Linked DNA regions of Homo sapiens: region 2 is linked to region 1. Evidence: fine-mapped expression QTL. A gene starts in region 1. The other region holds a variant in brackets. All regions are shown on one strand. Distances are from middle to middle.

Region 1 (4,335 bases):
GGAATGAAGACTCTACCTAGTTTATCTTCACAGGTCATCTCAGAGTGCCCCAACCCAAGCCTTTCAGGTGAAAATTCTTCGTCTCCCCAGCCAACTTCAGCTCTCTGCCTTCTGCACACCTCTTCCCAGCAGCAGTGGTCACATTTGGTAGGCAGGCAGGGGCCCAGCCCTGACTGAGAACACTGTTGCAAAGACTGAGAAACCGGAAAACACTGTGGCAATCTGCCCTGCCCTGAGGTACTCTGAAGAATCAGTGGCCCACCCCTAAACTTTCCAGCTGTGTGTTTGAGGTGAGAGCCCCATTTCAGAACCTAGAGTGATCTTAGAATCTAGAGTGATGGGAAAACTGTTAGAACATGCAAGCATGCCCTGCTATTTTTTTTTTTTTTTTGAGACAGGGTCTCACTATGCTGCCCAGGCTAGTCTCGAACTCCTGGCCTCAAGCAGTCCTCCCACCTCAACCACATTGGTGCTGGGATTACAGGCATGAGTCACTGCACCTGGCCCCTTGTGCTATTTTGGAGCTGAGGTTAGAGTTTTCCGTCAAAACCAAGAAACTCAGTTATGGATCTATCTCAAAGCTGCACTGGGCTGCTGCTGTAGGTTCAGGGAGTAAGTAAAGCCATCCACCCCTTTGGGCTGAAAGTTCCAGCCCTCTAATTCCCTAATCATTTGGTCTTTCCCATGACTGGCTCCTTCCTGAGGCTATCTAAGACTCCTCATTCATTAACATTAAGTCAGGGAAAAAGGCTCTTTATAAATAACAAAAGACATTCCTATCAGAAAATTCAGGAAATTTTGGCATACTCAAGGGCTTACCAAATATATTTCATAATATACCCCACAGTGGGGAAGTATTGGTACAAATTAAAGAAGAGATGGAGGAGGGCGGGCTAGGCAATGGAATCAGCAAGAATACAGGCCCAGAGGTAAGTATGATAAGAAAACAAAAAATTGAGCTGGGCACGGTGGCTCACGCCTGTAATCCCAGCTCTTTGTGAGGCCGAGGCGGCCAGATCACTTGAGGCCAGGAGTTTGAGATCAGCCTGACCAACATGGTGAAACCCCGTCTCTACTAAAAATTACAAAAATTAGCCGGGCGTGGTGGCGCCTGGCTGTAATCCCATCTTCTCAGGAGGCTGAGGCAGGAGATTCGCTTGAACCCGGGAGGCGGAGGTTGCAGTGAGCCGAGATCAGCCCACTGCACTCCAGCCTGGGCGACAGAGCGACTCCGTTTCAAAAAAAAAAAAATTAATAATTAAAAAAAAAATCGCAGGGCAAGTGGGCGCGCTTGTAGTCCCAGTCACTTCGGGGAGCCGAGGTGGGAGGATCGCTTGAGCCAGAAGGTCGAGGCTGCAGGAAGCCATGATCACGCCACTGCCCTCCAGCCTGGGTGACAGAGTGAGACCCTGTCTCGAAAAATACCAAAAAACAAATAAACAAACAAAAAACCAAAACCAAAAAAACAAGCCACTGACAGTTCTTGGGTATGGTTGAGACTCGAGATGAGATGCCAGTGGGGTGGGCAGTAGAAAGTGCAGAATAAAATGTACATTTGAACTGAGTCACCCTGCAAGGCCTGAGAGGCCAAGGCTTCACTGTGAGTGGGAGCTGGTAGGCTTAGCAGCAGAGGGAAAAGCAGCGTCGAGTTTTGGAGGTCACTCGACTTAGGTAAGAACAGACTGACTGACTGCTAGGCATTTTCTTCCTTTCGTTCAACAAATATTTGTGGAGTGCCTATTACGTGCCAGAAGCTGTTCTGGACACTGAGAAACAGGGATGAAGAAGAAACAGATCCAAGCCTTCCTGAGAGTAACCTCCCCAGGTTTCATGGATGAGGAAACTGAAGGTCGTCCTGACTCAGGCTCATGGCTCCGACCCCGGCTTCTGTGGTTGGAGGGCAGCACCTTACTTAGACTCCCAGCGCACGTGGAGCAGTCTGCCGGTCGGTTGTCTGGCTGCGCGCGCCACCCGGGCCTCTCCAGTGCCCCGCCTGGCTCGGCATCCACCCCCAGCCCGACTCACACGTGGGTTCCCGCACGTCCGCCGGCCCCCCCCGCTGACGTCAGCATAGCTGTTCCACTTAAGGCCCCTCCCGCGCCCAGCTCAGAGTGCTGCAGCCGCTGCCGCCGATTCCGGATCTCATTGCCACGCGCCCCCGACGACCGCCCGACGTGCATTCCCGGTACGGTAGGGCCCTGCGCGCACGGCGCCAGAGGGATGGGCGGGTAGAGCCAACTGCCTCTGGTTCTGCTGGCCTCCGCTGCTCGCGAAGGGATTCCTGCTCCCGGGAGGTGTAGGAGCCGCTTTCCAGAAGCACAGCCCAGAGACGTCTGGGCGGCGGCCCACACAACGCATGTGTTCGGAGCTCGCCGCGCTCTGCTTTTGCTCTAAGCGGGAACCATGGCTTCTGGCCACGCTGGGGAACCGAGGAGGTGGCCGCACCCAAGCAGGGGTCGAAAGCCCGGGTGGATGCGGAACAAGGATATGATAGGCCTTAAGGGTGGGGGATACCTCTGGGCTCGAAATCGGCGGGCGGTGCAAAACTCGAGGTCCAGTTCTCGGAGCCCATAGAGCCAAAAAAGCCTCAGCTTGTCCGGGGCGGGTTCTTGAAAGACGGAAAGCGGCTGAGTACCACGCGGCTTGCATTTTTCTCTTGGGACGCTCGAGAGGTGGGCTCCGTGAGGGCAGCTGCTGCCTGCAGATTATAGGGAGCCCTTTGCGCATTTATTAAGAAGCTACTGGTGTATCTCGGGCTGCGCTAGGCACGGCGCATGCAAAGATGAAGCAGGCAGCATCCCAGCCCTTCCGCACCTCAGACGGTCAGTTGAGTAGGATCCGCCGGTACCAACTCCTCCTTTTAACAAATAGGGAGACCGAAAGCTAGGAGACAGTCAGGGATCTCTAAGTTCCCAGTGAGTAGGAGGCAGAGGTGAGGTGTAGAACTCGTTTTTGCATGTCTCTCGCCTCTAGACGCACCCTTCCCTCATCCCATGCCCTCCCACCTCCGCCCCTACATTAAAGGTAGCATTGGATCCCGGGGCCGTTCAGTGAAGCTAGCAGGTGTCCGCAGGAACTCCCTTCCCCCTGCCAGGCTAGAAACCTTACAAGGCTGTCTAGAAATAGCAGTGATTTGTAAGGAGAGACCCGGCTCCAGCTTGGTGACTCTGGGCTGACTGCCTGCCTAGAGGTCCTCTCGGATTTTTGCCCTTTGGAGTGGTGTCAAAACTAGACGTGATACTTTGGGGATGCAGCCTGTGATATTTCCTCCAGCGAATGCAGTGCAGGGTTGGATTAACAAGGTGGAAAGAATTCGAGGGTTCCACCAAGTAGCTATTAACTCTAGGGCTGCAGGCCTCAGGCCTTCTGCAGCTATTTCTACACTCCCTGTACTGAAACTATTTCTTCATACTGGGCCTGACAGGCCTTTGCAACAAGGATCACGGCCGAAGCCACACCGTGCGCCTCCCTCCCGGTTGGTTAACAGGCCCTGGTTTCTAGTATTGCGATTTAAAGTCTGGCGCTGGCTGCGCGCCAGACCTGGGAGGCTGCCAGCTAGGCTTCACGTTGCTGGCGTCTGCTTCGGGGCATTCATTAGGTCTGAAGTCTGAATCCCAGCTCCCTCCCTCTCACCCACTGAGCTGCATAGCTCCAGATTGCCTCTGCTTACGGGCGGGGCTTCTCAGCCTTCTGCCTTCTGGCCCGATGCCCGCTTCCCAACGGCCGGAGGCCGCTAGACTAATCGGCTTCGCCCTGCGCGCTGTAATGCGCATGCGCACGCGCACAAGTTCCTGGGCCCGCCCATCTTCCGGACTTGGGCGGGGCGTAAAAGCCGGGCGTTCGGAGGACCCAGCAATTAGTCTGATTTCCGCCCACCTTTCCGAGCGGGAAGGAGAGCCACAAAGCGCGCATGCGCGCGGATCACCGCAGGCTCCTGTGCCTTGGGCTTGAGCTTTGTGGCAGTTAATGGCTTTTCTGCACGTATCTCTGGTGTTTACTTGAGAAGCCTGGCTGTGTCCTTGCTGTAGGAGCCGGAGTAGCTCAGAGTGATCTTGTCTGAGGAAAGGCCAGCCCCACTTGGGGTTAATAAACCGCGATGGGTGAACCCTCAGGAGGCTATACTTACACCCAAACGTCGATATTCCTTTTCCACGCTAAGGTATGGGCCTTCACTCTTCACAGACCCTGTCATTAGGCCTTTCAACTCTCTTTTGGCAACCATTAGGTTTTTTCCCCTCCCTTTTTAGTCATCTCTAGTGATTTATAGTGGCAAATACCCCCAAAGGAAGTAAAATAGCTTAAAAAAATCTCTTGGTTAATAAACATTAAAGAAGC
Region 2 (4,312 bases), 140 kb before region 1:
TCTTGGGAGGGAAGAAAAGCTGGATGTGGTCCCTGGGGAAAGTCCCTGCAGGTCATTTCCCCTACAAACTGGTCTAAGACAAGTTCCTGGATGCCGGTGGTTTCTTCATCCCGGGTCATTTATCCCAGTTGTGTAACCTATGGGAACAAGAGAGGTTTGCTGTGCCTTGGCAATGGACAGGGTGCTAGATCAGCTCTGCTCCTCAGCATTGGGGGAAGTGCAGCTGCAGAGATGCCAGTGGGAGCCCCGTGATGGCGGCACCTGGGCTGCTGGAAGGTGTGGAGTGAGGGCAGCTCTTCAGCCAGCTCCTGACTATACCGGTCATTTCCTCAGGATGGGCCCTGCTGGGCCACATGGCAGATGACCCTGACTGAAATCCCTGTGAGTTCATGTCTAAAGCTTTAAGCTTTAAAACGGACAGCCTACCCCTGCCACATCTCATGTGTGCCCTGGAAGCCTCCTTCCACCCCTCTGGATGTCCTGATATTTCTCAGCACAGAAAATCTCTGCTCCGCTGGCTTAGCCAATTTGGAAATGCTTTTTCTAAGTTGGCTCCTGAGCCAAGGACAATGTAGAGAGGGGGACTTTCTGCTGCCCCAGCCTAGTCCTGGAGCCCCACCTTGGGAGAATGAGAGTGTGGTGCGTTAAATAGGCAGCCCAGCTGGGGACGTGCCCAGCATCCAGGCAGGGAAGGGTGGGAGAGCTCTTGGTCTGCTGTATTATCACGGAGGGGTGCAGGGGGCATGCAGATCACTCTCTCATGAGAACATCAACAGGGTCAGATTAGCTCTGCAGAGGCTTATGGAGGAGCATGGTGGCCAGAGATGGGTCAGTACCAGAGCCCAGGGGGGCTGAGGCCAGGACATGCAGAGAGGCTGGTGGACATAGCAGCAACTCTGGTTTCTTCTTCTCCAGTCCATGTTCATACCCTGAGGGCTAGGCATTTGTAATAACAAACAAACAAGCAATTTAGAAATGGGCCAGGCATGGTGGCATGTGCCTATAGTCCCAGCTACTTGGGAGGCCAAGGCAGGAGGCCTGCTTGAACCCAGAAATTTGAGGCCAGCCTGGGCAACACAGCAAGATTATCTTAAAAAATTTTTTTTAATCTCTGAGAAATGGGTAGGGCCAGGAAGTAAAGGATGGCCAAATACTCCATAAGCAGCAAATGCGTGGCTCCAATGTGAACAATGATATTATAGACTCTGTTCTGAGACCTATGCATTGACACCTCCACCTCCCCCACTACATCTTGCCACCTTAAAACCACTGAGAGTGGTACCTGCTGGAATGGGTCCACACACACAGTCACACATATTTTAGGCAGGGTAGTTGACATCCCCAGGGAAAAAGAGCTCACAGAGAGAGGCTGAATGTTTCCAACTGGGTAGCAGTAATAGTACATCATGCTGTACATGGTACAGCACAGATCAGGTGAAAATAATAGCACATCGTGATTAACCAGGGCTTATTCCAGGGAGTCAAGAAGAGTTTCATATCAGAAAAATCTATCTTTGTAATTCACTATACCAGTAATCAAAGAAAAGGATTGTACATTTATTTTACTAGATGCAGAAAATGAATTTCATAATTGTCAACATCTACTGATGATAAGGAAAATGTATAACAAAATAAAGAGACCATTTCTGACTTGAGAAAGGATAAATACCAATATGTTATAGCAACAGTTCTCAAACTGTTTTCCAGGGAACCCTAAGAATCCCTCCTTAGGGAGGCTTTGATCTCAAAATTATTTTTAGAATAGTGCTAACACACTATTTTCATGTTTCAGTCTCATTTTCTCATGAGTACACACAATATGACAAGTTAGTTGATATGAGTGTGGATTTCCACATGGTAACTGACTTTTCAGAAGCTACCACTTGTTGAGTTTGGTATAATATAGAATAGCCACAATTATCTAAAAATACCATTAAAATACACTCCCCCATTTCAACTATATATCTGTGTGAGGCTGAATTTTCTTCATATACTCCAACCTAAATAACATATTAAAACAGGTTGGATGATGAATCAGATAGGAAAATCCAGCTATGAAAAAAAAATCAGACATGAAAAATTTTCAAAAGGGTAAAACCATAGTACTCTTCTTACTTTTTTTCTTTTGGAAGATGGTTATTTTTCATAAAAATATATTATTTATGTTAACATATAGAAGATGGATAATTTTTTGAAGAATTGATAAATGTTTAAATTTTTT[C/A]TTTCTATTATGGTAAATACTGATGAATAGAGTCCCCATAAATAAAAGTTCTTTGGGGTATTCAATAATTTTTAATAGTGTAATGGGATCCTGAGACCAAAAGGTTTGAGAATCATTGCTCTACAGCAAACATTATGTGTAATTAAGACACTTCAGGTGCATTCTCAAGAAGACCAATAAAGAGGCCACAATGGCAGGCGTGGTGGCTCACACTTGTAATCCAAGAACTTAGAGAGGACGAGGCAGGTGGATCACTGGAGGTCAGGAATTCTCAACCAGCCTGGCCAACATGGTGAAACCCTGTCTCTACTAAAAGTACAAAAATTAGTCGGGTGTAGTGGCAGGTACCTGTAATCCCAAGTACTTGGGGGGTTGAGGCAGGAGAATCACTTGAAGCCGGGAGGTGGAGGCTGCAGTGAGCCGAGATCGTGCCACTGCACTCCAGCCTGGGCAACGGAGTGAGACTTCATCATGGAAAAAAAAACAAAGAGGCCAGGATGTCTGGTTGTTACTGCCACTGTTTCACATATCCCTGAAGGACCTGCCCAATGCTAAAGAAACACAAGGAAGGTAAGAGGTGAAAGAGAAGAAATGAAACTATCATTGTTTGAAGATGACACCATCTTTTACATAGAAAACCTGTTAGAATCAAATGGCAAGCTATTAGAACTACTAAGAGAATTCAGTGAGGCTGCTGTATTCATGGCAAAATTTTAACAATTGATAGCATTTCTCTGCAACATTCCTTAATAGTTATAAAATACAGCACAAAGTAGTACCAAAAATATTAACTATCTAGGAAATAACCTCTTACAGAGAAAATTTAGTCTGTTAAAGGATAAACAGTGGCAATGTACGTCATGTCCACAGAGATTATATTTTAGCTTAGCAAAGATACCAATTCTCCCAAATTTATTTATAAATTAAATGCAATGTGAATCAAAATTTCCCACTGGAATTTTTATCAGGAAGGCAACAAATTCTTTCTTTCTTTCTTTCTTTCTTTCTTTATTTATTTATTTATTTATTTATTTATTTATTTCCTTCCTTCCTTCCTTCCTTCCTTCCTTCCTTTCTTTCTTTCTTTCTTTCTTTCTTTCTTTCTTTCTCTCTCTCTTTCTCTCTCCCCCCCTCTCTCTCTCTCTGTCTCTCTCTCTCTCTCTTTCTTTCTTTCTTTCTTTCTTTCTTTTTAAGACAAAGTCTGGCTCTGTCACCCAGGCTGCAGTGCAGTGATACAATCTCAGCTCACTGAAACCTCAACCTCTCCGGCATCAGGTGAACCTCCCACCTCAGCCCCCCGAGTAGCTGGGACTACAGGTGCACACCACTGGGCCTAGATAACTTTTTGTATTTATTGTAAATAAACACAAAAAATAAATATTTTGCTCAGGTTGGTCTGGAACTCCTGGGCTCAAGCAATCCGCCTGCCTTGGCCTCCCAAAGTGCTAGAATTACAGTTGTGAGCCACCACACCCAGCCAATAAATTAATTCTTTATGATGAATAAGTTATCTATGAAAATTAAGTCAGCTGGGTGCGGTGGCTCACGCCTGTAATCCCAGCACTTTGCCGGGCTGAAGCAGGTGGATCACCTGAGGTTGGGAGTTCAAGACCAGCCGGACCAACATAGAGAAAACCCGTCTCTACTAAAAATGCAAAATTAGCTGGGTGTGGTGGCATATGCCTGTAATCCCAGATACTTAGGAGGCTGAGGCAGGAGAATTGCTTGAACCCGGGCGGTGGAGGTTGCGGTGAGCCAAGATTGCACCATTGCACTCCAGCCTGGGCCACAAGAGCGAAACTCCATCTCAAAAAAAAAAAAAGAGAAGTTAAGTCAATGAAAAGTTAAGTCAATTAAAAAAGTAAGAGCTGTAGTGTTTAGATATATACACACACACATATATATATATTTATCTTTATATATGTATATATATCTTTTCCTTTTTTTGAGACCGAGTCTGTTTTTGTTGCCCAGGCTGGAATGCAGTGGCGCGATCTCTGCTTACTGCAACCTCTGCCTCCCAGGTTCAAGCGATTCTCGTGCCTCAGCCTCCCGAGTAGCTGGGATTACAGGTGCCTGCCCCCATGCCCG

Evidence for each region. PIP is the estimated chance that this variant, and not a neighbour inherited with it, causes the effect. A credible set is the group of variants that fine-mapping cannot tell apart.
Region 2: its variant is the best candidate, but not a certain one, in a credible set for the expression of LDHA in whole blood (TOPMed, PIP 0.82).

The regions. Positions count from the first base shown.
Region 1 is chr11:18,392,452-18,396,786 of GRCh38, forward strand. LDHA (lactate dehydrogenase A) reads left to right here and starts at 2,112. Exons shown (of 8, transcript NM_005566.4): 1 at 2,112-2,185. RefSeq lists enhancers at 1,407-2,071, 1,718-1,807, 2,072-2,737, 2,118-2,207, 3,472-3,973 and a silencer at 2,968-3,017.
Region 2 is chr11:18,248,683-18,252,994 of GRCh38, forward strand. No RefSeq gene overlaps it. Among named protein-coding and RNA genes, the nearest start is that of SAA2-SAA4, 2.2 kb to the left of the region's middle. The variant C/A (reference allele first, on the strand shown) is at 2,222.